Linked DNA regions of Homo sapiens. The protein of the gene in region 2 interacts with the protein of the main gene of each other region in a pairwise test. Each region holds a gene or a part of one and is shown on either strand. Other genes may lie near its edges.

Region 1 (4,284 bases), on a different chromosome or scaffold from region 2:
CCTTCTCTACACTCCCCAGCTCTCCAAAGCCCACCTATGCTGAGTCCCATTTCCACAATCGCTTCCTCACCAGACTCCCAGGACATGCGCTCGGATGGGCACATTCAGGCGCTTGGTTCTAACCATTCCACATTATGCATCTCCCTTCACATCGCAGGCAAAGGCCACGTCCTATGCTTCCCGTGCATCGCACAGTGCCTCGGGCCCCCCAGCAACACGGCCACGGAAGTCTCGCCAGCTGTTACTCTGGATCTCACTTACATGGTGTCTACACAACCACGGTACCCAGGATTCTCTCTCTGCATTCCAGGCCACCAGGCTACATTCTACCATCCTCACTCTTAAACCCAAGCAAATATTCCCATCTGACTTCTCAGGGTCTTAAGGTGTATTGTTCTGTGACCTGACCTAAAGAGAGAACCTGGTTTACTCGGATCATGATGGAATACAGAATTTACACTCGAATTCCATTTCTTCATTCATAATCTGTTCCAGGCTTCCCTCTTGAACCAGGTTTCTCTATCTTGTATTCAATCACTTAACAAAAATCCATTCAGAAAGAGCATGATAGGCACTGAGAGAATGTAAAAATGAGTAAGTTCCTACCTGTGCAGAGATTATAATTTAGCAGAGGAAATAGGATGGTTACATAAATCAGTAAAATTGGATTAGAGAGTTTTAAACGCAACTACAGGTTCTGAAAAAAAAAAATAAAGTTGCTATGGAAGCACCTGGTGGGGAAAACATTTGTGCCTGGGAAGACGAGAGAGAACGCAGGCACCTGGGCCTGCAGGACCTGGCCTGGACCCTGGAGCTTTAACTCCGTCCCAGTTCTGCTCCGTGCGGCTCCATCTTCTCATCTGTGCAATGCCAGTGTCAGAGGAGAGCATCTCCACAGTCACCCACATTGGCAATTTTACAGCTGGAAGGAAAGGCAGCATTTGTGATGAGCCTTCAAGAATCATTAGGAAGCTGGCACATGGATGGTGGGAGAGCGTCCCAGGGCACACGTCAGCAGCTGCTGAGATCAGCCCTGGAAAGACAGGCTGGAGCCAAGGCAGGAAGAGGCTTGAACACTCAACCCGCGGGCTCACAGGTAACTTGGGCAACGAGCGTGGCTGGAGGTCTCTGAATAGAGAAGTGTTAACAGACACCGACAGGCTTAACACACAAGCTTCCCAAGAAAGTTAACAAAAAAAAAGGTGTGCATTGATTCCAGCTTCAGCGCATTTCCGTTTCAGTGAATGTTTGAACTTGAGGAGAGAGTCCCTTCATGCAGACATCTGAGTATTTCTGTGGAGGGAACACTTCCTACCACCCAAATGGGGACATGAGGAAGCGCTGCTGCCTCCCTGGCAGGCCCCCTTTCATTCAGAGGATATGGGCAGACCTCACTGAAGAGGCTGTAGCAGGGGTCGAGCAGGTGGTGCAGACATCAGAGAGTTCACTCTAGAATGCTGGAAACTTGCAGAGGAGGCTGCAGACCAGTCAGCGACGGAGGGTGCACAGAGGGGACTCCTGCAACCCACCAGATCACCAGCCAGGTGACACACCCTGGAGTCTGAGACACACTATGAAAAAGCAGGAGGCCGGGCGCGGTGGCTCACGCCTGTAATCCCAGCACCTTGGGAGGCCGAGGCGGGCGGATCATGAGATCAGGAGATCAACACCATCCTGGCTAACACAGTGAAACCCCGTCTCTACTAAAAATACAAACAATTATCAGGGTGTGGCGGCGGGCGCCTGTAGTCCCAGCTACTCGGGAGGCTGAGGCAGGAGAATGGCGTGAACCCAGGAGGCGGAGCTTGCAGTGAGCTGAGATTGCACCACTACACTCCAGCCTGGGCGACAAAGTGAGACTCCATCTCAAAAAAAAAAAAAAAAGAAAAACAAGAAAAACCGGGCGGGTCCCCTCTGCATGGCTCGCAGGAGGCAGTCAAGCTTGCTGCATTCTGCACTCCTCTGCCCTCCAGAGGACCTTAACACACCATGCATCAACAATAAACATGCCCTGCTCCACAGAATTACCTGAAAGCAGTTCTTGGGAAACCTAAAAAGTATTCCCAGGAACACAATGTTGTAAGAGATGTGCACAGTCCTTGGACAGACACAAAAGCCCGTTCAATCAATAAAGAGACTCTGACAACATCCACTTTCAGGACTTGGAACCCTTCCCTTTTGCTCCCACAGGCTCCCATAGGCAGAAGCCCCCAGAGCCTGCACGGCCATATCCAGCACATGCACGGGGCTAATGTCTAGTTCGCTGGCCCCAGTCAACTATGGGTCACTCGGAAGACATGGGAGCAAGGTGACTGACTGTAAAAACAATGGTCGCTATGGGTGGTTCCCCTGATCTTTCCCTGAACTCACTCTCCCACCAGGTAGAACTGGAGGAGGAGGAAAGGAAATGGAGGGAACACAGATAGGGAAAGACGCTCCAAAACAAAACAGTGAAAAGGAAAATGCACTGATGGGACCTTCCAGGAGATGCCAGTAATGAAAGCGGCTGTATTACACACGGAAATCTGGGTCCAAACAGCTCAGAGACCACCAGCCACCCTAAAAAGGCCAATGGTAAGGCAGCTGGGGAGCTCGGCCCTGTGTGCTGGTCCTAAGTTCCCTGTCCACCCCAGGCTGTTTCTTGCTGTTCCCAGGCCCAGAATGTGACCTTGTCCCTCTTAATTTGCCTAGCTAACTCTGACCCGTCCCTCCCATCCCAGACCAACAGCATCGCCCCAGCAGGCAGCCTCCCTGCCACCCGGGGCTGATCCAGGCACCCTCCTGTGGGTCCCACTGCTCTCTGCCCTGACCTCCCATGCTGCCCTGACCCCACGGTTCAATCTGTTAATGTTTGAGCTTCCCGCTCCCTAGACTACAGCCTCCTCAAGGTCATGGGATCTATCCTTATCTGCAGGCCTCTGGGTTCAAAGCCAGGCTTCAAAATTGACGACGTGTGTGCGATGTTGGACAACATCCCTGCTCTCTGCTTCACTCTGCTCCTCTGTCAGCTAGGGATAGCAACATACGCCTGTGCTGCAGGGCTGTGTGAGAACTGCATCCACGATGCAAGCAAAGCCCTGAAGATCAGGCAAATCCATAATGAGTATCAACCACCTCCTCCACCTCTAGTGCCAAACACACCTGAGATGATAAAATACTGGTTGACACACTGCATGCCACCAAGGAGCTTGCTTTTGTCTGGAACACTGCATCCAGCTTATAAGCCTGCTCCTTAGAGAAAGCCTGCCTTCCAGTTCTACGGAACATCCAGGAAGTAAGCACCTTTAAATTCAGGTCTTGGGTTATTTGTGGAGTGAAGCAAGGTGAAGGCTCCTATCAGCAATGAGCCACCCTCCTCAAAGCTTCATTTCTCACCATTTCACTTTGGAAAAAATCCACTCTTCTGAAAGTTAAAATATTTTCTCTTGGGAAACAAACAAACCCTTACGAATGGTTGTACTTGGTGAGTCGTCCTGTAATATTTATTCTCCTGGAAAAAAAATATGATCCAACAGTACATTTTTATTTCTGGATCTTGGAAAATATTTACACCAACACCTCAGTTTTATCCTCAAAAAACTGGAGCCATCCAGGGAGGTTAAGACGCTGGCCCAGGGCCAGACAGCTGGGTCAGGAAATTGTAATAAGCTCTATCCTTCAGCCCCACTACCCAGCAGGTATGTGAGCAGTGGCTTCAATTTAATTTCTTCATCTAACTAAGAAAGGGTATTCATGTGTTTCAGTAATGCAGAAACAACGGAGAAAGGAGGCTAGTCTTGGAAATGATTACTTCTTAAAGAAAAGAAAGGCACCTCCAACTTCATTCTTCGATCTCAATGTTAGAAAATTCCCCAGAGAAAACACGGAGAGTCCCTCTTCCTTAGAAGCACTCCATTCCATTCCCCGCCTCTGGGCTGCCTCTGAGATCCCACATCCTGTGAAGCCAGGGGTTCCTTGCTCTAAGAGAGTCTGAGGGCTCAATATCATCCTGAATGGTTCCAGACCACCCAACGTGCAGGGCAGCGAGCACGGCTTCATCCTCTTCTATTGCAAGTGAGGTATGGGAAAAAAGGGACAGCAGACAGAACCAGAAAAGCTGATGCCAGGGCTGGACCAGCCACAGCTTTTCATGTGGCCTGGGCTACCTGACCCCTCCTTTCCAAGCTACGAGGTTCCCATGGTTACAACAAGGGTTCATAGGCCAGGTGGGTGCTGGCCCACCTGGTTCTGTGATTGTCAGTCTCCAAGGGCAGGCTTCCTTCCCATCTCTACCCCCAGAGGGAA
Region 2 (4,284 bases):
ACACTTATCATGTAAAACTGTTTCACATGGCATAGTTTATTTAATCTTCATAAAGACCCCATGAGAACAGTAATCATTATCATTTTGTGGATGAGGACCTGAGGTTCAGAGTGATTACATTGTTCCAAGATTAGACAGCTAGCAGGTGAGTGGCCAGGGCTGAAAACCAAGATTGTCTTACCCCAGAGACTGTACCCTTAACCACTAAGCTCTAGCTGTTACTTCCCTTTAGTCATTTACCAATTCTTGCCAGTTCTGCCTTCCAGATATCTTTCAAATTATTCTATTTCCCACCTCCATGCTACCACTTGGTCAAAGCCACCATTATCTCTCACCTGGATGACTACCAGTGTCTTCTAAATAGGCTGCCTGCTTCCATTTGAGCCATGATGCAGCCAGTGCATTAAATGCAAGTCTGTCTCTATCAATCTATAGCATGTAGCCAAGGACATGGCTGGTTTATCAAAGAGGCATATCTGTGGCTTTATGATTACTTACTGTATCTAAGTTAACTATAAATATAAGAACCTGTGGGAGTATATGGTAATTTAACAATTCAACAATAAATATGGTTTCCTGTGGCCCTTAGGATCAAGTCCAGTCTCCTAACCCTGGCTTAGAAGGGTTAGGAGATCTTGGTGATCTAGTCTCTGGCCACCACCTTGTTCTTTGCATTCCACCATGCTATTTTTTTCAGCTCCTTCAAGTGCTCTCTAGCTTCAGGGCTTCTCTGCCTGCGGTCCCCTTTGCCTGGAAAACTCTCTCTTCAGCTCTGTGTCTGGCTAGTTCCTATTCATCTTTCAGGCCTCAAGATAAATGTCATAGGTTCAATATTTTTAGGCCATCTTTGACTTCTTTCCCTTTCCAAACAAACAAACAAACAAACAAACAAACAAACAAAAAACTTCTCCTATCCGTCTTCCTGCCTCTGTCCCCATTGCTACTGCTATGGTCCAGGACTTGATTTTTTTCTAGTCTGGACTGCAGCCTTTTGTCTGCCCTTCAGCTATGGGTTTCTTCCCCTCCAATCCATTTCCCACACCTCTGCCAGAAATTTTTAAAAAGCACAATCACATAATGTTGTTTGCTTCCTCCAAAACCATCAATATTTTCCAACTGCTGACAGAATAAAGTCTGAACACATTGGCTTGGTATTCAAGGCCCTCACTGGCCTAGCCCCACGTGTCTTCCTAGCCTCATCTCTCAGTAGCCGTACTCACATTCCTTATGCTGCAGCCTAGTATTTCTCAAAGTGTTTCGTAGCCTAGTGTTCCCATGCCCTGTAGGGACATTAGATGATCCAAGGTGGTGTATGGATAAAAAGTTATTTTAATGCATAGAGAATAAAAGCAAATTCATGGTAGCGATATAAAATTTCCTGTTAAAATACATTAATTTAGGCTACAGAGATGACTTAATTTGAAGGAAAAGTATGTTAAGTAATAATAGCATAGGTGGTACACAGCTGTGGAAAGAGCCAGAAGATGGGACACAAATGGCTAAAGTATGGGAAACGGGCCCGACCACCTTTGTCTACTTCCCATTCCCTCAACTCACCATGTAATTCACATTTCTGTGCCTTTGATGATACTGTTCCCTTATTTTTATTACTCTCTTTCCAACTTTCTGCTTATCAAAATTCTCTCAGGCTTTATGGTTTAGCTCAAATGACACTTCCTTGTGATATCTTTGCTCATCTCCCGGTCAGAATTGAGGACTCCCTCTTCTGCACACTCCCAAGACATTACTCGTGCTTCTTTCTGGTTCTGGTTCATTTTGTTTGATGGTGTAATTAGTACCTCATATGTCTGTCTCTCTCCCTATCAGACAGTAAGTTTGGCCTTTAGCACAGTGCCAAACACAGAGAGATAGCTTATGATAAATGTTCATTACATTGAATTATAGTAAAGGAAGAAGTTCAATTTCACAATTCTCCAAGTTGCAGGTGAAAGTTAATAGGAAGAGAAACCGTATTCCAAACAAGGAAAGGCTATCTGAAGTTATAAGGTGTGCATGTGTGTGTAAGGATATAGGCAACGAGTTATTTCCAGTGTAAGGTGAAAACCTATAATTCTTATGGGTGAAAACATTATGTTTCATGTTTCGGGGCAATGACCTAAATCTGAATGTTGGCAATGCTTGCCTAATCTAGTCAGTTGGCTCAATGCCTTCAGAAATTTAAAAAAAAAAAACAAAAAAACAAAACAAAAAAAAAACAAAAGTAGTTTGTCAAAGAGGAATTTCTGTGGCTTTGTGATTACTTGTTGGATCCAAATAAACTATAAATATAAGAACTTGTAGGAGTGACAGGTAATTTAATAATTCAGTAAACATTGATGAGCCTACCTCATATGAAATCTCTATGTTAAAAGCCATGGGGACAGGGTTGGGAACTGGAAAGGGGAGGGTGAAAGGAGTAAATATGGAAATGATGAAAATAATGCAAGCATGGTCCTTGATACCATGTATTGACCATTTGTTGTGAAACAGCACTCTGTTCAGCACTTAATGTATATTATCTCATTTAATGTTCTTGCAGTCCTCATAGGTGGATAATTTTATTATCTCGTTTTACAGATGAAGAAACTAAGAATCAGAGAGATCATGTATCTTTACTCCAAGCTGTAGGAAAAAAAGTAGATAGCATTCATTATGTGCCAATAACTATTTTAAGTACCTCATGTGTATTAACTCACATTAATACGTGTGGAAAACAAAATTCCTGTCTTGGAGAAGCTCTGGGTTTCTTGTGAAAGATAAGGTTCAAAGTTGAATTTTGGAGGAAAGGTAGGATTTTTGTCAGATGGATTGGTAGAGGAAGGGTCCTCCATGCACAAAGAAGAGCCTGAACAAAGTCCAGGAGATGGGAGAGTCCAAGGCCTGGGAGTAACATCATTACCTGCAAAAACACAGGCAGCCTAAGGAAGCCGTGGTACAGGAGATGAAGCTGGGAAGGAAACTGGAGAGATTAGGCCTGATGCTGAAGGAAATGAATAGCCAGTAAAGGTTAGTAAGCAGAGAGCAGAAGAGTAGCATGATCGTGTCTGTTTCAGGAAGATAATCTGGAATAACTGTGAGAGCAAGAGAAACTATAGGCAAAGAGATCAGCTAAGAGTTTTGGCATTCAGATGAAAGCCAATGGGAACCTGAAATAGGCTACTATTTCACATACCAATTTGAAAGTCACCAAGGAGGTAGAATTTTTCAGCCCAACGCAGCTGAGTTGATGCTGGGGTGATGGAAGGGGATTAATGAAAGATGCCGTGATGGGGTATGTGGGAATGCTGGGAATGCATCAAAGTCTAGGCCAGGCATGGTGGCTCACTCCTGTAATGCCAGCATTTTGGGAGGCCAGGGCAGGAGGATCCCTGGAGTCCAGGAGTTCGAGACCAACCCAGGCAACATAGTGAGACCTCGTCTCTACAAAAAAATTTAAAAATTAACCAAGCATGGTGGTGCACACTTGTAGTCCCAGATACTCGGGAAGCTGAGGCAAGAGGATCGCTTGAACCCAGGAGTTCGAGGCTGCAGTGAGTTATGATCATACCACTGCACTCCAGCCTCAGCCTGGGAGACAGAGCAAGACTCTGTCTCCAAAAAAAAAGAAAGAAAATAAGAAAAAGAAAAAGCCTGTATCTGCTTTAGTTATCATTATTCTTCCTGAAGATGTAATAAAGTCAGTGTCTAAGGTGTCTGCCTCAGAGGAGTGGTTGTCACTCCTCTCTTGATCAAGTGGCAAGATTGACAAGGTTGGTAGTATCTTATCAGGTGTGGTGGTTGGGCTCCAAGTAGTCAATTTCGGTAGTTAAAAGGAAGAAAATTAACATGTATTGAGGATTTTCTCACCTCAAAGATCTCTGGAACAGTCTTGAGAGGCAGGTACTATGCTGTTTCTGTTATGGTACAGGGTGAATGACTTACTTGCTCAAGGTCACATAGAAAATAACAGAGACTCACTTGCATAAGGTCTCATAGCAAGTAAGTGACAGAACTGGTCTGAAGACTATGTTCTATTTTTATTTATTTATTTTGAGACAGGATCTCACTCTGTCACCCAGGCTAGAGTGCAATAGCGTGATCACAACTCACTCTAACCTTTACCTCTTAGGCTCAAAGGAGCCCCCCATTTCAGCCTGCACAATAGCTAGGACCACAGGCATGCACCACCATGCCTGGCTAATTTTTTGATTTTTTTTTTTTTCTGTAGAGATGGAGTCTCACTGTGTTGCCCAAGCTGGTCTCAAACTCCCAGGCTCGAGCGATCCTCCCACCTCGGCCTCCAAA
Region 3 (3,171 bases), on a different chromosome or scaffold from region 2:
TTAATAAAAACAAATACACATATATACATACATAAAACAGGAGATGGAAAACGGCTCAATATTATTGTCATAATTTGCATTTCCTTGACTAATAGGAAAATAGAACATTTTCCATGTGCATATATTAGTTCTTCTTGCATGAATTTCCTGTTCATGTCTCTATTAATCTACTAGATCTTTTTTTAAAATTAGTTTGAATGGATCTTCATATAATAAAGGTATTGGCCCATTATGTTTTCTGTAATTAGCTAACAGCATTCTTAATAGAAGAGTTCAAAAGAGAGACGACTATATTCTTAATGTGGATTGAGTTTTCTGGGCTGCCGCTGAAATGTCTCATGTAGAAGACACACAAACATACACATATTCCTGCGAAAATACTTTCAATTTGGTTTCTTCCTACTACAATGTAGGCTCCACAAAGGCAGGAATGTATCTCAAAGGCTGAACTGTACCCACACATAGAAGGCACTTAATAAATACTTACTAAATGAAAAACAAGACTCATAAGACTTAATACTATTGCTGCTGTAAAATCCTATCATTCAAGGAATTTCAAAACGATAACCTGAGTGGATTTAGGGTACCTAAACTCTTATTTTTCTAAATTACAGGTAGAAGCCCTCAGCTCGTGGGGTTTAAAGAAATTCAGCCCACAAAGAGTATAATAATCTACATGTCTAGAACTATAAATAGGGCATGGTTTTTAACAGTTTTCATGACAGTACCTAAAAAGTTTCCTGGATAGGCTGTTCCTCTGGAAGCAGCAGGCTTCCCTCTCTATAGCTCTCTTTTATGTAGGAGATTTTGTGTGTCTCTCTCCAGCCCTGTGTATGCCTTTCTGAGTCTTCTTGGTATCTATCTCACTGTTGCTCTTCCTCTATTAGCTCTTTCTTCCATTCCTCTGCTATTTTTTCCCACCTTCTCAATTTACTTAGTGATGAAACTTAAGTACAACATGCCTTTTAAATGTATTTCTCATTATTTGCACTCTATCATTTGTAGATTAAAAACATTAAAATTATGTTTTTAATGTAACACAGGGATCATACAGAACATTTTGTTTTTTGCTTTTCCCAAACCCCACTTCTGCTATTTTTAAGTAGCTACTGATTGATTTCTCTCTGTAGGCCAGAGGTCCTCTATATAAAAAAGGTTCCCCACTCCCATTCTAATATACTAACCCAGAGAGACAGCACCTACCCCAAGATTCACTAAAGCTCTACTTGCTAGACCTTCAATTTCAAGTACACAGCTCTCTATCCTGTCACCAAAGAAAAGAAGCCTACTTAGAGCTCATAAGTCAAGGTCCCCAGCACTGGATATTCTTTACAGATGTGTAGCCACTGGCCTAAACCAGTCAACATCCGTGGGCTCTAGTGCACTCGGAGTCCACTGCAAAAATTACTTCTTTGAAATGCCTAGGTTTCCTCACCTAGGAAGGAAGAGCCAATAACCAATTGTGCACTTTTTTGAAAGTAACCCAGTAGATTCTTGGCTGGCAGAAGAATCCAGTATCCAAGATAAAATACTATCTGAAGTTGTTTTTCAATTATGTTTCAACATTCACTTACTGTCTTCTTCTGTTGAGTGGGTTCCTTCAGAAATGTAGATTTCCAACTGGAAAGTGGGAAAAAAAGTAAAAGAAAAAACATTAATGCATTCTAAGATAAGAGAGTGAAGTGGAATGTACAGTAAATTCAAACATCTAGGGATGAGTGCCCAAATCCTGTTTCTTTTTTTTTTTTTTTGAGATGGAGTCTCACCCTGTTGCCCAGGCTGGAGTGCAGTGGCATGATCTCGGCTCACTGCAACCTCCGCCTCCTGGGTTCAAGCAATTCTCCTACCTCAGCCTCCCAATAGCTGGAATTACAGGCAGACGCCACCACACCCAGCTAAGTTTTGTATTATTATTTTTTTTTTTTAGTAGAGATGGGGTTTCGCCATGTTGGCCAGACTGGTCTCAAACTCCTGACCTCAGGTGATCCGCCTCGGCTTCCCAAAGTGTTGGGATTACAGGCGTGAGCCACTGCGCCCAGCGCCCCCCAAATCCTGTTTCTAACATCAGAGACATAGGGACAAATCCCCCACATCCTTCTCTAAAAAAAAAAAGGACTGAAATGAGTAGGATTTTTTATTTTGTTCACCTGGAAAAGGCCTGCAGGTGGTATTTCCATTAATTTTTTTATGAATACACAAAAATATCATTTTACACAAATGAGATCTCATATGTGTGGTTTTACTTAAGAATATCTCTTTTCTGCACTCTACTTCTTCCCAACTCGGTATCTAAACTTCCTCCTGCCCTGCTACTGACTCAGGAAATCTACAATAACAATCTAGTGTGGTTTCTTCCATATTCTTCTCTTTACCCACATAATCTTACACAGATTTTACACACACACACACCCACATATCAGGGTTGGAAGTTTCTTCACATTGCTTGTTTTACAAAAATGGGATCACAATATAGTTTTCAGCATCCTTCTTTTCTCATTCATTATTATCATGCTAAATTTATTCTCAAGTATAATACTGGTTAAGCTATCCCTCCTGGCCCTGCTGCACCTATAGACATGAGCTACCCTCCAAGACCCAGAGCTTTTAAGACAACCTACAAAATTATTGCAAATCCTGTGGTAAAGAGAGTATGCTGTAATAAAGACGTCTACTTTCCAGAGAACACTGGAACATATGAACTAATTTTTATTTACTTATTTACTACGGAGATAAACATTTCTCATGAGTGAGAAAAATCATAACTTATTATAGTTAAAAGGGACCTTAAAGGTCATCTAGTCCAATCTTTTTTTTTTTTTTTTTTTTGAGACAGGTCTTACTCTGTCGCCTAGGCTGGAGTGCAGTGGCGCGATCATGTCTCACTACAGCCTCGACTTCCTGGGCTCAGGTGATCCTCCCACCTCAGCTCCCACACTCCCACCCCTCTCCTCCCTCGTCTCTATTTTTTTGTAGAGACCGCGTATCGCCATATTGCCCAAGCTGGTCTTGAATTCCTGAGGTTAAGTGATCCGCCCATCTAGGCCTCCCAAAGTACAGAGATTATAGGCGTGAGCCACTGCACCTGGCCCCAATTTTTTTTAAAAAACAAAACAAGCCGGGCGTGGTGGCTCATGCCTGTAATCCCAGCAATTTGGGAGGCCGAGGCAGGCG
Region 4 (3,958 bases), on a different chromosome or scaffold from region 2:
TGTGTTTGACATAGCCTTTTTTATTTTTATTTATTTATTTTTGAGATGGAGTCTTGCTCTATTGCCCAAACTGGAGTGCAGTGGCACAATCTTGGCTCACTACAACCTCCGCCTCCGGGGTTCAAATGATTCTCCTGGCCCAACCTCCTGAGTAGCTGAGATTACAAGTGCCCACCACCACACCCAGCTAATTTTTTTTTTTTTTTTTTTTTTTGAGACGGAGTCTCCCTCTGTCTCCGGGCTGGAGTGCAGTGGCACCATTTCGGCTCGCTGCAACCTCAACCTCCTGGGTTCAAGTGATTCTCCTGCCTCAGCCTCTCAAGTAGCTGGGACTACAGGCACCCGCCACCACACCCAGCTAATGTTTGTGGATTTTTAGTAGAAATGGGGTTTCACCATGTTGGCCAGGATGCTACTGCTCCAAAGAAGTGCTTCTCAAATTTTAATATGCATACAAATCATCCGCCCGCCTTGGCCTCTCAAAGTGCTGGGACTATAGGCATGAGCCACTGCGCCTGGCCTACGCCCAGCTAATTTTTGTATTTTTAGTAGAGATGGAGTTTCACCATGTTGGCCAGGCTGGTCTCAAACTCCTGACCTTGTGATCCACCCACCTCGACCTCTCAAAGTGCTGGGATTGCAGGCGTGAGCCACTGTGACCAGCCGTGTTTGATATAGTCTTGAAAATATTTTTCTTTCGTAGAAGAAACCTAACAAACCTACTAAATTTTTAAATTTATAGATCTGATCTTATAGTCCCATCTCAATGAGCCTCACATCCAAGAAATTTCCAGTTTTTAAAAAAAGATTGCACAATTTATTTTCCTTTAATTTGAAGGTTGTCATGTTCTGTTTAAGACAAAAAGATGGAAACACCAAAAGTTTAAGTGTGATCCATTTATTATTGCTGCCATTTGTGGGTACATTCTCTCAATTCTCCTTAAATCCCAGTGATGCTTTTATACTTGCAACACGTGTATCCACCTCTAGCTTCCCTGTGCAGAAATGTTTGGCATTGGAATGTGAGGTATCTCTCAGGAAACAGAGTGGCAATGGGTAGGATGAAACCTACCCATTGAGAGTTCATGATATTCATTGTGAAATACCACTAGATATAGTCCTTCATTTTATTTAGAGAGCTTGAAGTTTCTGATTTTATGTAGAACAGAAAAAGAAACACAAATTATACAAAATTTAAGTGCAATCAAAAATAAAAATATATGTTAAATAAACGGTTATGGTACAAATTTTGCAAAGCCTTCAGGTGAGCCACAAATAATCTTGGAAATTATTTTAATAAAGTCATTTTGGTTCTTTTTCTTCATTTTCCTTAAAGTCACCTCTAAAGGTATTTCTCTGTTTATATCATATGTAATCAGCTTTTGGCTAAAGAACAAGTGGTAGTAAATGAAGACTGCCAAAGCCTCAAAAATGATATTGAAGAAATGGGGATAATTAGAAAAAACAGAAGTTCAAACATTAAAATTCTGGCACTATTAGATGACATCAACCTAAACCTGGTAAATCAGTTTTCAGAAAACTAGGTGCTTATTGCGCTTTCATTTTATATCCAATAACTGCATCAAACTTAACACTGATTTTTCGTTTTAAAACTGCCAGGAAACGCTCAGGAAGGATCCTAAAAGAAAGATATATGCAAATAATTAGAAAATTAATATTAAGTGCATTTGTAGAATACCCTCTTTAGAAATACTTTTAAGTTATCATGTATAGTCATGTTCATGTTAAATAAGATTAAGCATCTTAAATCTGAGTCACTACTATATATTCTTTCCCATTAAATCTATTTCCTTTTCAAATGGAAAAGAAGGCTTAGCCTTCTTTACAGTAGAATAACCTGAAGTAGTCAGTTTTTGAAACAAAAGATCTGAGGGAGGAGGTGTAAGAACTGAAGAGTTGAGATACTAAAGACTTTACAAAAAGAAACCCGACATTAAAAAGGAAATGAGAATAGGAACTAATTTTGTACTTTATAATGCAGAATATTATTAAAATGTTCCACTAAGAGACTGCGGAAGTAGAACTGCTAAATAAAAATGCAGACAACGCTTTGGTTTTGAGCATAATGCTGAACCAATTATTTCACCTTTCAGTTTAAATTCCTCACGTGTAAATGGAAAAATTAACATCTATCCCTCAGTGTTCTTTTGTGGAATCAATGTGTTACTATATTAAATAAAATGTCTTGGCCTGGCGTGGTGGCTCACGCCTGTAATCCCAGCACTTTGGGAGGCAGAGGCGGGTGGATCACGAGGTCAGGAGACCGAGATCATCCTGGCTAACACGGTGAAACCCTGTCTCTACTAAAAATACAAAAAATTAGCCAGGCATGGTGGCGGGTGCCTATAGTCCCAGCTATTCAGGAGGCTAAGGCAGAAGAATTGCTTGAACCTGGGAGGTGGAGGTTGCAGTGAGCCCAGATCATGCCATTGCGCTCCAGCCTGGGCGACAGAGCGAGACTCCGTCCCCCACAGCACCCCCCCAAAAAATGTCTTGAACAGTGACGGACACTAGCAGGTCTCATCTCTTTTCTCCAGACACTACACTTAGAATATTTAGGGAGTTGTCACATTCCAGTGGGTCTGGGAGAAAACAAAACAGAATATGTAAATCAACATAATAATATACAGAAATCTGCCTAGATGGCATGAAAAGAGGGTTTGGAAATATGACACCAATGTGACCTCATAACAAGAATTAGGGCAATGATAATAATAATAGTAGTAGTTATAATAACAGTGGCATATAACATTTATTGAGTACTTACAATGTACTGAGTACTTTTTATTTTATTTATTTATTTTTGAGGTAGGGTCTTGCTCTGTTGCTCAAGATGGAGTGCAGTGGCATGATCATGGCTCACTGCAGCCTCAACTTTCTGAGCTCAAGCAATTCTCCCACTTCAGCCTCCTGAGTAGCTGGTACTACAGGTGTGTTCCAACACGCCTGGCTAATGTTTTTGATTTCTAGTAGAGACAAGGTCTTATTATGTTGCCCAGGCTTGTCTTGAACTCTTGACCTCAAGCAATCCTCCTGCCTCAGCCTCTCAAAGTGCTGGGATTACAGGCGTGAGCCACCGTGCCCAGCCCTGAGTACTTTAAGAGCATTATTTTCTTTATTCGTCTCAGCCCTATAAAGTCCAATTGTTTTCTCCATGTTACAGATAAAGAAACTGAACTTCAGATAAGTTAAAAAACTAATCCATGTTCATGTTGCAAGCAAGTCACACAAACACAGCTTCATTCAACTCCAGAGCACAAACTTTGAGTCTTTATGTTTAAAGGTCTAGAAACTAGAATTAATTTATTCAATCAACAAACATTTTGGTGCCTCTAATGTGTCAGTCACTCTTCAAAATGCAGAGCATACAGTGATGAAAACTAGGCAAAATTCCTTCTTCTATAGGTTTATATTCTAAGGGGCTGCGATCACTGAGTGCATACTTACGTAACATGACAAGTACAATGCCAGAAACATCACAGGCTTTAACTCGTCTACTCACCAAAGAGATCCCTGAGCTTTACTATCTAAACCTCCAAGGCATGTTCATCATAGTTTTTAGCAGAAGGGGCAAGAAAGCCTAACATATGTCATGCTTTTCATTTCTTGAGTTTTTTGCTCTTCGCATCAGTAATTCTCAAAATATAATCTCTGGACCACTGTCTGTGGCAGTTGCCTATTAAAATACAGATTTCCGGTCCAACTCAAACATCCATGTTAAAATCTTTAGAAGTGAGATCAAGGGATCTATTTTTAAATAGACTTCCCAAGTGATCCTGATATCCCACTGACTTGGAGAAGCCCAGTCTAGGACAGGCAGCAAGAGGCTTTTTCTCCCAGCTGTCCTAAGGCACCTCTCCCCTTTCCCCTCCTTATGTGGCCAGCCTCATTGCCACACAGCTTTCCCAGATGAGGAATGAAGCAGTGTGTTATGATG
Region 5 (4,284 bases), on a different chromosome or scaffold from region 2:
GGGATGGGTGGCATGGGAGTGATGCTCAGGCAGAAGTCAAAAACCCTACTAGAAAAATCAATAAACAGATACCATGATTAAAAGGACTGTAAAAGAAATAGTGAAGCAGTAAGAAACAGAATAATTGAAGGGCCATAATGGTGGGGTAGTAGAGAAGGCAGTAATAGATACCCATGTTGAGTAAGTGACAAGATAACCTGGTCAGATTTGCTTTGCATCTTGGATAGTATTCCAGTCCCCAACTCTGGTGTTCTCATGTTCTTTACTTTCTGGTTCCTCTTGATATTATTTAAAATAAATTATGACACTCAGAGCCTGAATAATATGTCCTTCCAGCTCTAATATGTATCCTACTTGTCCAATTTCCTTTTCCATTTGGAATCTTATATATGTTAGTCCCAGGACCCTGTCTAGGGAGAGGCCCTCCAGAAAGGTCAACTGAGAAGGAAGCTGATAGGGCATCTCCTTAGATTTATGGACATTTACATTAACAATATATGGCTCTGACTTTTATTCCAGTGGGAAGATGGTTGGGAGGTGAGGGCTTGGCAAGATCTTAGGAAAACCACACTCAGTGTGTCCCTCCTCCTCCCCACAGCCCTACCCTCCATCTACACTTCTTTCATTATTTCTATAAAGATGGAATATGGCTTAAATATGCATGAAGAGCAGCCTATATCAAAGGTTCCAGAGCGTAGCCATCAAGAACAATAGGTAGGCATGTCATAAGGATAAGAGCTGTTAGAGGTGAGAAGAGTCCCTCAAAGAAAATTGTGAACTAGGTAATAGGAACTCCCCCACCCCCGTGAACACTTAAATACACACTTGAGCTTGTAAGAAATTAACACTCAATTTAAGTGTGGCATAGTGGCTCATGCCTATAATTCCAGCATTTAGGGAGGCCGAGGAGGGAGGATTGCTTGAAGCCAGGAGTTTGAGACCAGCCTGGGCAACAAAGTAAGACCCCTGTCTCTACACACAAACAAATGAACAAACAAACCAAAAACCACACACAAAAATTAGCCAGGTGTGGTGGTGTGCACCAGGAGTCCCAGCTACTTGGGAGGCTGAGGCAGGAGGATGGCTTGAGCCCAGAAGGTTGAGGTTACAGTGAGCTATGTTAGCGCCACTCCACTAAAAAAAAAGGTGCCCACGGACAAGAAACAAATGCAAAGTAGTGGGGGAACTCAAGCTGAAGCTTCATAGAGGGGTTCTGGAGGGGAGTGGGGTGTTAGTCTTGGCACTGTGGAGGCTTTAATGCCCAAGGAAGGGACCAGAATTGAGGTATTAGACCTGGGATGGGAGGAGCATTGAAACTGAGCAACCAATAAAAGGATCATGGGATGAGGGGAGGGGAACTTTCTAATTATATCATCAAATATGAAATCATGGTGGAAACAGTATTTAGAATATAAAAATAATAAAATACATATTTAAAAAACATGGAGAGGGGACTTTGGATTAGGCAATGGTTTCTTAGACATCTAAAGCACGAACAGCCAAAGAAAAAGGCAAGTCAGACTTCATTAATATTAAAAACTTGTGATTCAAAGGACACCATCAAGAAAGTGAAAAGCCAACAAGAGAATGGGAGGAAATATTTGCAAGTCATATATCTGATAAGGGTCTAATATTCAGAATATATATGAAGAACTCTTTTTTTTTTTTTTTGAGATGGAGTCTTGCTCTGTCGCCCAGGCTGGAGTGCAGTGGCGCAGTCTCGGCTCACTGCAAGCTCCGCCTCCTGGGTTCACGCTATTCTTCTGTCTCAGCCTCCCGAGTAGCTGGGACTACAGGCGCCTGCCACCACGCCCGGCTAATTTTTTTTGTATTTTTAGTAGAGATGGGGTTTCACCGTGTTAGCCAGGATAGTCTCGATCTCCTGACCTCGTGATCCACCCGCCTGGGCCTCCCAAAGTGCTGGGATTACAGGCGTGAGCCACCGCGCCCGGCCAATATATGAAGAACTCTTATAATGCAATAATAAAAAACAAGTAAAAAATGGGCCAAGGATTTGAATGAGATATTTTCCCAAAGAAGATATACAAATGGCTAATGAGCACATGAAAAGATGCTCAACATCATTACTTATTAGGAAAATGCAAATCAAAACCACTTTGAGATACCACTTTATATCTACTAGCATGGCTATAATTAAAAAGCTGGACAATAACAAGTGTTGGAGGGTATATGGAAAATTAGGAATCCTCATACACTGGTGGTGGGAAGTAAAATGGTGCTTTGGAAAATAGTTTGGCAGTTTCTAGAAAATTTAAACACAGAGTCACCATATAACCCAGCAATTCTACTCTTAGGTATATATCCCAAGGGAACAGAAAGCATGTTCACACAAAAACTTGCCTGTGAGCTTCCATAGACATTATTCATACTAGGGAACAAGTAGAAACAACCCATGTGTCCATCAGCTGAATGAATGGATGAGCAAAATGTATTATATCCATACAATGGGATATTATTCAATTACAAAAACAAATGAAGTATTGTGACATGCTATCACATGAATGAACCTTGAAAATATGCTAAGTGAAAGAAGTATAGATACAAAAGGTCACATATTGAATGCTTCCATTTATGTGAAATCCATAGAGACAGAAAGATTAGTGGTTGTCAAGGGTTGGAGCAGGAGAGAGAAATGGGGACTCCTGCTAAATGGGATGGAGTTCCTTTTTGGGGTATTGAAAATGTTCTGAAATTAGATAATGGTGATAGGTTCACAGGCTTGGAATTATGCTAAAAACCAAGGCATCGTACAATTTAAAGAATGGATTTTATGGTATGTGAATTATATCTCAATAAATAGTAATTAAAAACCATGCAGGGAGCAAATAAAGCAATTATTAAAGGGCAATTTATAGCCTAACATATTTATATTGAAAAAGAAGATTAAAAATTAATGAGTTAAGCACCTTAAGAGGTTAGAATGAGAAAAACCCAATAAAAAGAAAAGGAAGAAATTTTTTAAGTTTTGTAAATTGTTAGAATCAGTAAAACCAAAAATAGGGTTTTTTTTTTTTCTTTTTTTTTTTAAAGGCCAATTAAATAGGCACCTCTGGCAAGGCAGACCAGGGAAAAGAGAGATGGCACAAATTGATGAGGTTAGTGTGAAAAAGGGAACATAACTACAGAGAAAATGAAGATTTTAAAAAGTCATTAAGGACATTTTCATACTTTCATTTTTAACTTAAATGGACAATTTCATGGGAAATATAACCTACAAAACCAAGTCAATATGAAGCCGAAAACCTGATTCAACTTAGAATCATTTAAGACATTTAATAAGCAGTTCAAAACCTATCTTCTAGAACCCTACATGATTTATACTGTCTTACGGTAGTGTTCTACTAAACATGCAAAGTGCAGATTGTTGCAATATTATGCAAATCTGTCCAGATAATATAAAAAGGGGAAACATGCCCTAATTTATTGTATAAAGTTAATATGATCTTGGAACGAAAGCTGGAGAATGATATTACGAGAAAAGAAAATTGGGGACCACTCTTATTTATGAACATAGAAACAAAAATAATAAAATATTAGCAAATAAGTGTTTTAAAAAATACAATGAACAAGATGAGTAAGAATGATTTAACATTAGATAATCTATTAATACATATTACTATATTATTAAAGAAATGGTACAATTTTGTAGCTATAGAAAAGTCAACAAAATTTAATGTTCTTACATAATAAAAATTTAGTACACTAGCAACGGAATGAAAATTCCTTAACTTGAAAGGAAATCTATTAGAAAAAGTATATTAAACGTTAAACTTAATGGTAAATAGAGGGATTTTCTTTAACAAGAGGAATAAAGCAAAGATAGTCATTATTATTACCTGTTTTATAAATTATACTATATATAGGCCCTAGTAAGCACAGCAAAACAAGAAATAGAAAAAGTATAGGGATGGGAAAAGAAGAAATGAAACTTTCTTGTTTTGCCAATGATAGGATTGTCCACAGAAGAAATCTAAGTAATTTTCCATTATAACTGGTAAGTAAGAAAATGTATGAGGTTCTAAATACATTAGCATCAGTCAGTCAATCAATTGGGTCTGATATACTAGAAACAAATATATATATATTTTAAAAGACACCATTTATGATATTCACAAAACTAGAAAATACTTATACATCTAAAGGACATGTAAGATCTTTATGAAAGAAATTACAAACCTTTATAGAAAGGTATTAAAAAAGGCCTAAGTAAAAGAAAAGCTATATCATATTTATAGATGGGAAGATTCAATATTATAAAGATAG
Region 6 (4,284 bases), on a different chromosome or scaffold from region 2:
GATAGGCTGCTTGGGAAATGAAGTGTTTACGCCAAGCAAGAAGAAGAACTCTGCTAAAGCGAGAGGCGAGCACCACTGGAGGAAAAGAAGCTGTGTAGGAAAACTCTCTGTGCTCTGGCTCCTCTTTGAGGCTACCCTGGCTGCCCTGAAACAGACAGTGGGCTTGGCAAAAACACACCTCAGACAGGAAGGGAGGCCGCGGAGAAGTTCAGCTGGCAGCCGCTCACAGCCACTGTTCCAGCTCTTCCCCTTTCATGCTTAGCCCACAGAGAACACTCCGGGCCAGGCCTAGCACACCCCTGCTGCTGGGGGGCTCTAGGCATCCTGAGTGAGCCATTTGACTCTCTCACTGAAAGCAACCGATGTCCCAGCTGGGTGCACCCCAGCTGGGTGACGGGAGGTGGGACTTTGGAGTCTTGGTCAGGGGCTCACCTCCGTGTGAGGCATAATTCTGCCCACGCTTTCTGCCTTCTGCTCCACAGTGTCCTCAGGGAAGTGCGCGAATGTCACGGGACTGTTCTCTGTGGTTCCATAAGCAACCTAGAGGGTCCAGAAAGGGTGTTTGAAGAGGGCTCAGCACGTGCAGAGGGATCAGGTGAGCTATCTGAGGAAATGGGAAGGAATTCATAAAAGAAAAGGGAAAGTGGAGGGCAGCCGAATGGTGGAAACAGAGACATCATTGGTAGGGGCCTGGGGTCAGGAGGCAGAGGTGCTGGGAGTGAGCAGACTAGATCTCTGCAGGGCCCCAGATCTGAAAGAAAATTGAGAGCAGGGACACCATTCTCTTCCAGCTGGAGCTCTCTCAGTGCCCCGTTTCCCTGGAGCAGCCACCTGTCTGTGCCTGTGGCTCCGGTATTACCAACACCCCACACTTCTCCCCCCATCCCCTGGCTGCCTTAACCCCACCTTCCTGATTTCAGGCCACATCCCCGGCTCCTCCCTTCCAAGCTGAAGGCCCCATAAACTTGATGAGAAAGCCAGCCTGCCTTGGCCCAGCTAGGAGTGGCACAGACACAACCCCACCCCCGCATTCTGCAAACCCTGAACAAGTGCCTGGCCTTGGGGCAGGCGTCCCCCAAGCTCTGGAGAGTTTCCCGTGAATTTATTTCCATCAAAATAAAAAAACAACCTAAGCAGTGATTTTAAAAACCAGTGGTACCCCCACCCCACCTCCCCCATTTCCAGTGGTTGGAAAGCCTGAGCAACAGAAAAACCAGAAGCCAGCCTTGGAGAAGCCTAAATACCATCAAGGAATGGTCTAGGCCAAGTATGACCCTCCTATCCTAGAGGCAAGGGGCAGAGAGGTTTGGGAAAAGGGCAGGCCCTGGAAACCAGGCCCCAACACGAGGGTACTGGGTAAGGGAAGAGAGGCTAGTTACCCCGTATCCTAGGTCCCCTTTAATCAACGGATACCAGATCTCATCCATCCTCCTCCCTGCACCAAGCTTCCCCCATATCAGCTGCTCTGGCTCTGGCACGGCTGGGGTTTGGTTCAATGTGGGTTCTGGTTTCTCCTTCCACCCCTCATCACAGACAATATCCTGTGCCAGGCAGCTTGGAGCTCACCCTGAGGCCAGAGCTGTGACCCTGCCTGCTCACCCTCCCCTTTCCACAGGAATCCGGACATCGTGGCTGGCAAGTGGGCACACAGAAATCTGGCGGGCTGGGGCGGGACTGCCCACAGAACTTAGGGTCTGGCAGCCAGAGCCGTCCAGGGCTGGTCCCTCGACCTGCCCCACCCCCTCCCGCACCCCTCCTCACAGTCCTGGGGCCACCGCCCGAATGTGGCATCTGCCAAGTACACCTCGGCGCCACTCAGCCGCCACCCTGAGACCCCTCAGGGGCGGGTCCTGACCACTAGGGTTGGGGATGAGGGATGGAGATATTTCGGGGCGATGAAGGAGGGGGGATGGTGCGACTGTGCTTGTGGCCTGTGGTTTCCAGGTGTGTTTGCCATTCCTGTGGGCCACTCTCCCCCACTTCCCACTTCTCTGCTTAGCCTTCAGCGGTGGAAAAAGGGGATGAGGGCGCCGGCGACAGAAACGCAAGCGGGGTTGGAAGAGAGGGGTGGGGGCGCGCCCGAGGGTGGGGAAGGAGCTCGGGTCTACCCAGGGCCAGCTTCGGCGCGTCGAGTCTGAAGTGGGAGACCGACGCCGGGGCGGCTCTCACGCTCGGCAGGCGCCGCACAAGCGCCCCTTTAAAGCGCAGGCAGCTGGCCCACCGCAGGGAGACGCATCCAGCTGTCCGGCCCCGCTTCCTCCCGCCTCGCATCCAGGGCACCCGGCCGAGCGTGTGTGGATGGCGCGGCGTGGAGGCTCAAACCTGAGCAAACAAATAAGTTGAGGGAACGCCTCCCTCTCTCCGATGTAAACTCGGGGCTCCAGACATAACTATTCCCCCTTCCCAGAAAAGCCCCGGGAAAGGCGGTAGGCAGAGGAGCACCATAGGAGAGCGGGGGGCTACAGCCGGGGCTCAGGGCTCGGGGCTCGGGGGCCACGGTCCCACCCCCTCATGCACGGTAGCCGGCTGGGGGAACGGCCCCGCCCCCTTCCCCGTGGAGGGCGGGGGCGCATCTCTGGGCGCGAGCGAGTTAAGCCCAGTGGCCTCGATGCTCCACGTAGGAGCTGGCTCGGCTGCCGGCTGCGGTCAGGGCCACCGTATAAAGAGGGCGGCAGACCCGAGCGCCTAGGACTCGCCGCTGCCCGCGCCCCGCCGCCGCTGCTGCCCCCAGCCCCGGCCCCAGGCGTCCCAGCCATGGTCCGCCCAATGCTCTTGCTCAGCCTCGGCCTCCTGGCTGGTCTGCTGCCGGCGCTGGCCGCCTGCCCCCAGAACTGCCACTGCCACAGCGACCTGCAGCACGTCATCTGCGACAAGGTGGGGCTGCAGAAGATCCCCAAGGTGTCAGAGAAGACCAAGCTGCTCAACCTACAGCGCAACAACTTCCCGGTGCTGGCTGCCAATTCGTTCCGGGCCATGCCGAACCTCGTGTCATTGCACCTGCAGCACTGCCAGATCCGCGAGGTGGCCGCCGGTGCCTTCCGCGGCCTCAAGCAACTTATCTACTTGTACCTGTCCCATAACGACATCCGCGTGCTGCGCGCAGGTGCCTTCGACGACCTGACCGAGCTGACCTACCTCTACCTGGACCACAACAAGGTCACTGAGCTGCCCCGGGGGTTGCTCTCCCCGCTGGTCAACCTCTTCATCTTGCAGCTCAACAACAACAAGATCCGTGAGCTGCGCGCAGGCGCCTTCCAGGGAGCCAAGGACCTGCGCTGGCTCTACCTGTCGGAAAACGCGTTGAGCTCCCTGCAGCCCGGGGCCCTGGACGACGTGGAGAACCTCGCCAAATTCCACGTGGACAGGAACCAGCTGTCCAGCTACCCCTCAGCTGCCCTGAGCAAGCTACGGGTGGTGGAGGAGCTGAAGCTGTCCCACAACCCCCTGAAAAGCATCCCGGACAATGCCTTCCAGTCCTTTGGCAGATACCTGGAGACCCTCTGGCTGGACAACACCAACCTGGAGAAGGTGAGCTCCTGGCTGTGGGCTCTGCCCTGGTTCCTTCTTCCCTTCCTGGAGGCCCCAGGAGCCAGGGCCACAGCTGGCACCATCCCCCGTCCCCAGGTTCCCTGTCCCTCTGGCTATCTCCAAGGTGAGCAGCTCTGCCACCTCCCTTCCTCGCCTTGTCACATCCCTACCCTAATCCCTGTCTGCTGCCAGTCTCGACCACTGCCCTCCTAGGATTCTTACATATAAAAGGAGTGGGACTGCCCTGGCCCCACAAAAGGCCCCCTAGGGCCATCTCCAGTGCTTCCAAACCCCCAACTGTGAGCAGCAGCCACCTCTTCCTGTTGGGCCTTCCACCCCTCCTCTGCTGTTTTTCCCGTCTCCAGTAAACCTACCACCCCATAAAGGAAGGTTTGTTTATTGAGGAGCCTTCCAGAGGAGCTGGGCAGATCAGGCCCACAAAGAGACCCTGTTCCTGGTGGGGGCTGTGCATGTGTGCTAAGGGGGAGTGGGGGACTGGGGAGTGAGGGGAAGCAAATGCCTGAGGAAGACATTCTCCATGCCCCATAGAGGCCCTGGTGGATGGCCCTGCCCAATCCACACAGACACAATTCACTGCATTCTCAAGTCCATTGCAGCTCAGTAGGCGTGGGACCAAGGGCTCCCCCAGGATGCAAGCATCGTGCCCATGGGCTCCGTGAAGGGGCAAAGGCAAGACCACTATTGTCAATCCTTGGCCCAAGACCCCAGGTGTCTCTCCACAGAGAAGACTGGCGT
Region 7 (4,284 bases), on a different chromosome or scaffold from region 2:
GGGGAGATTATTGCCCTCCTACAGACATTTGGAAATGTCTGGTGATCTTTTGGTCATCACAGTGACTATTAGGTGATATCTGCATTTAGTACCCAAGGGTCCAGGAGTGCTAAAATCAGGATAGTACCTACACAACAAACAATGTCCCATCCCAAATGCCAATAATGTCTCCACTGAGAAAATGATTTAGCCTGAGAGGAGCCTTCCTAGCTTCAGAAGTGTCTGGACATTTCTGAGAGGGAGAAAGAGATATTTAGAAGAAAAGATCCCGATATTCTATCATTTAGTAGGTGAAAGGACTAGCTAACGAAGATAGGAATTGCAGATAAACGTGCTATAAAGTGACCCTAGGATTCCTGAAAAGCAGCAAATAAGATACAAGGTTCTCCGCTTTCCCAGATACCTGTAGGTTTCCCTGCCCGCTTGCTGTTCTATGAAGAAGCACGTTAAAGGACTGACTTTAAGATTATATAAGAAAATCAAGGAATAAGAGGAATAAGACTAATGCTTAGGACCTACTCTTACGTTATCTGAAAAATGCCTCTGGGCCATCCTTTGTGTAGTGTGTAGACACTACAAATAACAGCCGGAATGGAGCCCGGAGACCCTTTTAAAACTTGTCTGGGCATGAAGTAAAGAAGTAACCAATAGCCAGCTATGAGAGTTTGGGATAAGGAGAGAATGGATACCTTTAGCAAACTGTAATCACTCACTTTGGTTCCAGGCCAAGAATAAATATCTACAAACTAAGAGAGAGATGTAAAATAATCTCTGGCTTACATGCGACCTGAATGACCATCCCTCTAAACTGCCGCATGACTCACCCTCTCTCTGCTCCTGCCCCATCCCTGCCCCCAGGAAGGTGTTGGGAAAACAATGAGGTACCGATAAGGAAAAAGAGGCTTTCTTTCAATTAAGGCAGCAGTATCAACCCCACCAGAATGTTCTCTTTGGCCTGTACCACTCAGCTTAGCTTGTAATGCTGAGTTTCTCAACTGCATTCAAAGGAAGAGGAGGACTGGTACAACCCACAAAATGGTCACCAGAAATCAGATTAAGCCAGAAAACTGCAAATTAGGTTAAAATTAAATTTACCTTCAATCTCTTCCTCCTCTTCCTCTTCTTCATCCTCATCGTCACTGGAATCACTGACCTGCACAGTTATGTCAGTGCTAGTTACAGGGGTCCAGTCAAAATAAACTCCAAAGCCAATGTCATAGTCATCGGTCGCAAACTCCCAGCAGACACGCTTCCCCTCTGGATGAGTAGGTACCCGGATGGTCACCACCTCACCACGCTTCACCACCAGACGGCTGTTCTTCTCTTTGCCCAGCTTGCTTTTGAATTCCTTCACCTTGGCAAAGGTCCAGATGCATGGAGGAGCCATCAGAGGTGGGGAGACTGAAAGGACAAGCAGCTTAGCACTGAGAAACCATGAGGAAACATGAGTACCCCGGGCATTTTGCTAAGAGAGGCTGGCACAGTCAGACATTCTTTCTACTGGCTTGACTTCCTTTCACAAGTCATTTTCTTTCCTTCCATTTGTCTGTCTGCCTGCCTTTCTTTGAGTATCTACTGGAAACAAACCACCTCCTTTACTCCCAAAGGTCTCACCTTTCCTGTGGTCCCCCAGAAGATCTGCAGATTCCAAATCAGCTGAAAGAACATCTATAGCTCCTGTATGTTCAGACTGGATCATAACGATGTCCCCAGACCTCTGTGGAACTTGATACTTAGCCATCTGCACAACAGAACTCTGGTTAAAGGAGTATTCGAGTGGCAGATTCTAATTAATCTCTTTTTGCATGAAGGCTGCCCCACCCCTGCTCTATTATCTCCACTATCCCCACTCAAAGCTTAATGTACTAGTCAATGTTCCTTCTCTTTCTTCCAAATAGAAGTTGCTAATAAATTCTACTAATTTTTTAAAGCCATCAAAATATTCCATTGTTTAAAGACTGTTTCCTACCTTTTGCAACTTTCCTGCTCCAAACCCTTTATAAGGTCCTTGTCCGCCAACACCCTCGCAGGTTGTTAACAGTATTTGCATTGACTGTGATTCTGGGCCATGCCTTGGTCTTACCTCACCTGCACAGTACCTCCCTGTGGCTCCTCTCATTAATAGCTCTTGCTCCTAGGGTTTAGTTTGACTCCCACTCTGCCACACATCCTCCTGCTACAATTCCCACTCAAGGGTTACTTCTACATTACTGTCAATCAGCTCTCCAAAGCACTGCAGAGACAGAATCTGGTTTATAGTCTTTCTCTCTCATCCACAGCCCACCTCGGGCTACAGATTGTCTCAGTCTTGAAGTCACTAACAGTGTTCTATCAATAGTTACAATTTCACCTTAGACCAGCCCCAGGACTTGCATTTAAACAGTACATTTGCTGCCAGACGTCTGACTTACATGGAAGAATGCAAATGGCATTTGATACTCAAAGCCCTCACTAACCCATGCGGGAGCTTACAATGTCTCCCTGGTGAGTTTCCCTTCAAATCACTCAGATTAGTGTTCCTGGTTTCATGCTATTATACCTTAATTTCTGCCCCTTCTCCAAACAGTTGGCAGGCAACTCAACAAGAAAACTATACCTATTGCCCACAGGGGAGAGCACATCAGTGAGTCAGCAATCCAGTTAAGAGGCTGGAATTGTATTTGTGAGAAATAAATAAATCAAGTTTGTAATCCTCCCAGGCTGTATTCTCATAATATCTGTTTCTGGAGAATAAGCCCTCCAGTTCTCATCTCCTTTGCTAACTGAAATGAATCAGACTTTGGCTAGCGTGCTTAAATAAATCCTTCCTTTTCTAAAATGCTAAATAAAGGATTAGGTTGCAACATATTAGCTACATAGCCTTAGTAAAGTCTCTAACAGCCCTCAGCCTCAGTTTCCTCATTTCTTTCTTTCATTCCTTTTGAGACAGAGTTTTGCTCTTGTTGCCCAGGCTGGAGTGCAATGGCACGATCTCAGCTCACTGCAACCTCCACCTCCCAGGTTCAAGCAATTCTCCTGCCTCAGCCTCCCGAGTAGCTGGGATTACAGACACCTGCCAACACGCCCAGCTAATTTTGTATTTTTAGTAGAGATGGGGTTTTTCCATGTTGGTCAGGCTGGTCTCGAACCCCTGACCTCAAGTGATCTGCCTGCCTCGGCCTCCCAAAGTGCTGGGATTACAGGCATGAGCCACCGGGCCCAGCCAGTTTCCTCATTTCTTAAATGGAGACACAATGGCACCTATCTGACAAGGTTGTTCTCAGGAGTAAATGAAGTGTTACAGATACAAATGCTTGTAAACTGTAAAGTATTATACAAATCTAATTATAACGCCTGGTGGTGTCTTCATTGACACTAATACCAACCATTATTCTAACACATATGCTAATAAATGATAGAAACAACCCCATCCCGCCCCCATCCCTCCATGGCAGGGGCACCACTACACCATCACTTCCATACAGCTACTTGGAAGGCTGAGGCAGGAGGATCACTCGAGCCCAGGATTTTGAGGCTGCAGTGAGCCATGACTGCACCATCGCACTGAAGCCGGGTGACAGAGTGAGACCTTTGTCTCAAAAAAAAAAAAAAAAAAAAAAAATCAAGGCCAGGCACAGTGGCTCACATCTGTAATCATAGCACTTTGGGAGGTCAAGGCGGGTGGATCACCTGAGGTCAGGAGTTCGAGATTAGCCTGACCAATATGGTGAAGCCCTGCCTCTACTAAAAATACAAAAATTAGCCGGGTGTGGTGGCATGTGCCTGTAATCCCAGCTACTCGGGAGGCGAGGTGGGACAATCACTTGAACCCAGGAGGTGGAGGTTGCAGTGAGCCAAGATCGTGCCACTGCACTCCAGCCTGGGCGACAGAGGGAGACCCTGTCTCAAAAAAAAAAAAAAAAAAAAGCTTCTGTGGAATCTTTATCATAAATACTAAATAGATCTACCACAAGAAAAGTAAGAGCAAAATAGTCCAATGACTTCAGGCTCCTCAATGAAGAGGATTTTAGAGAACACATGAACATTCACTCTAACACTTCGTTTTCTGAATCGGTGCCTACTGGGTGCCAGTACAATGATGGGCCCTGTGGAAGATACAAATAATCATTCTCCAAAAAATAATGAAGACCAAGATGCCCTAAATTAGAGGGCAAAGAGAGAATTCCGGGAGCCACCCTCGCAGTGCTTTCTAATTCCAACCCAACCACTATGTGTCCACATTCTGGTGCCTCCTTTCATAAGAAAGAGCCAGAATCTGCCCCCTACCTCATTGAGGACCTGGGC

Evidence for each region.
Region 1: the proteins of DGAT2L6 (region 2) and RNF144A interact in binary tests that used the Homo sapiens proteins (3 or more experiments, as listed by UniProt).
Region 3: the proteins of DGAT2L6 (region 2) and CIAO2A interact in binary tests that used the Homo sapiens proteins (3 or more experiments, as listed by UniProt).
Region 4: the proteins of DGAT2L6 (region 2) and HSD17B11 interact in binary tests that used the Homo sapiens proteins (3 or more experiments, as listed by UniProt).
Region 5: the proteins of DGAT2L6 (region 2) and SLC10A1 interact in binary tests that used the Homo sapiens proteins (3 or more experiments, as listed by UniProt).
Region 6: the proteins of DGAT2L6 (region 2) and ACSF2 interact in binary tests that used the Homo sapiens proteins (3 or more experiments, as listed by UniProt).
Region 7: the proteins of DGAT2L6 (region 2) and TMED8 interact in binary tests that used the Homo sapiens proteins (3 or more experiments, as listed by UniProt).

Annotation. Positions count from the first base shown.
Region 1 is NC_000002.12:6,920,227-6,924,510, reverse strand, and holds part of RNF144A (E3 ubiquitin-protein ligase RNF144A), read right to left. Parts: intron 1-4,284. UniProt on the Homo sapiens protein: E3 ubiquitin-protein ligase which accepts ubiquitin from E2 ubiquitin-conjugating enzymes UBE2L3 and UBE2L6 in the form of a thioester and then directly transfers the ubiquitin to targeted substrates.
Region 2 is NC_000023.11:70,183,787-70,188,070, reverse strand, and holds part of DGAT2L6 (diacylglycerol O-acyltransferase 2-like protein 6), read right to left. Parts: intron 1-4,284. UniProt on the Homo sapiens protein: Diglyceride acyltransferase that uses fatty acyl-CoA as substrate. Particularly active with oleate as a substrate. Has no wax synthase activity to produce wax esters.
Region 3 is NC_000015.10:64,073,918-64,077,088, forward strand, and holds part of CIAO2A (cytosolic iron-sulfur assembly component 2A), read right to left. Parts: intron 1,621-3,171; coding exon 1,575-1,620; exon of another isoform or gene 1-1,574. UniProt on the Homo sapiens protein: Component of the cytosolic iron-sulfur protein assembly (CIA) complex, a multiprotein complex that mediates the incorporation of iron-sulfur cluster into extramitochondrial Fe/S proteins.
Region 4 is NC_000004.12:87,335,728-87,339,685, forward strand, and holds the end of HSD17B11 (estradiol 17-beta-dehydrogenase 11 precursor), read right to left. Parts: intron 1,640-3,958; coding exon 1,549-1,639; 3' UTR 788-1,548; downstream 1-787. UniProt on the Homo sapiens protein: Can convert androstan-3-alpha,17-beta-diol (3-alpha-diol) to androsterone in vitro, suggesting that it may participate in androgen metabolism during steroidogenesis.
Region 5 is NC_000014.9:69,786,892-69,791,175, forward strand, and holds part of SLC10A1 (hepatic sodium/bile acid cotransporter), read right to left. Parts: intron 1-4,284. UniProt on the Homo sapiens protein: As a major transporter of conjugated bile salts from plasma into the hepatocyte, it plays a key role in the enterohepatic circulation of bile salts necessary for the solubilization and absorption of dietary fat and fat-soluble vitamins.
Region 6 is NC_000017.11:50,467,284-50,471,567, reverse strand, and holds part of ACSF2 (medium-chain acyl-CoA ligase ACSF2, mitochondrial isoform 2 precursor), read right to left. Parts: intron 3,529-4,284; coding exon of another isoform or gene 2,755-3,528; exon of another isoform or gene 2,688-2,754; intron 541-2,687; coding exon 433-540; intron 1-432. Other genes in the region: CHAD (chondroadherin precursor), read left to right, coding at 2,755-3,528. UniProt on the Homo sapiens protein: Acyl-CoA synthases catalyze the initial reaction in fatty acid metabolism, by forming a thioester with CoA. Has some preference toward medium-chain substrates. Plays a role in adipocyte differentiation.
Region 7 is NC_000014.9:77,342,083-77,346,366, forward strand, and holds part of TMED8 (protein TMED8), read right to left. Parts: coding exon 4,267-4,284; intron 1,757-4,266; coding exon of another isoform or gene 1,742-1,756; coding exon 1,615-1,741; intron 1,402-1,614; coding exon 1,096-1,401; intron 1-1,095.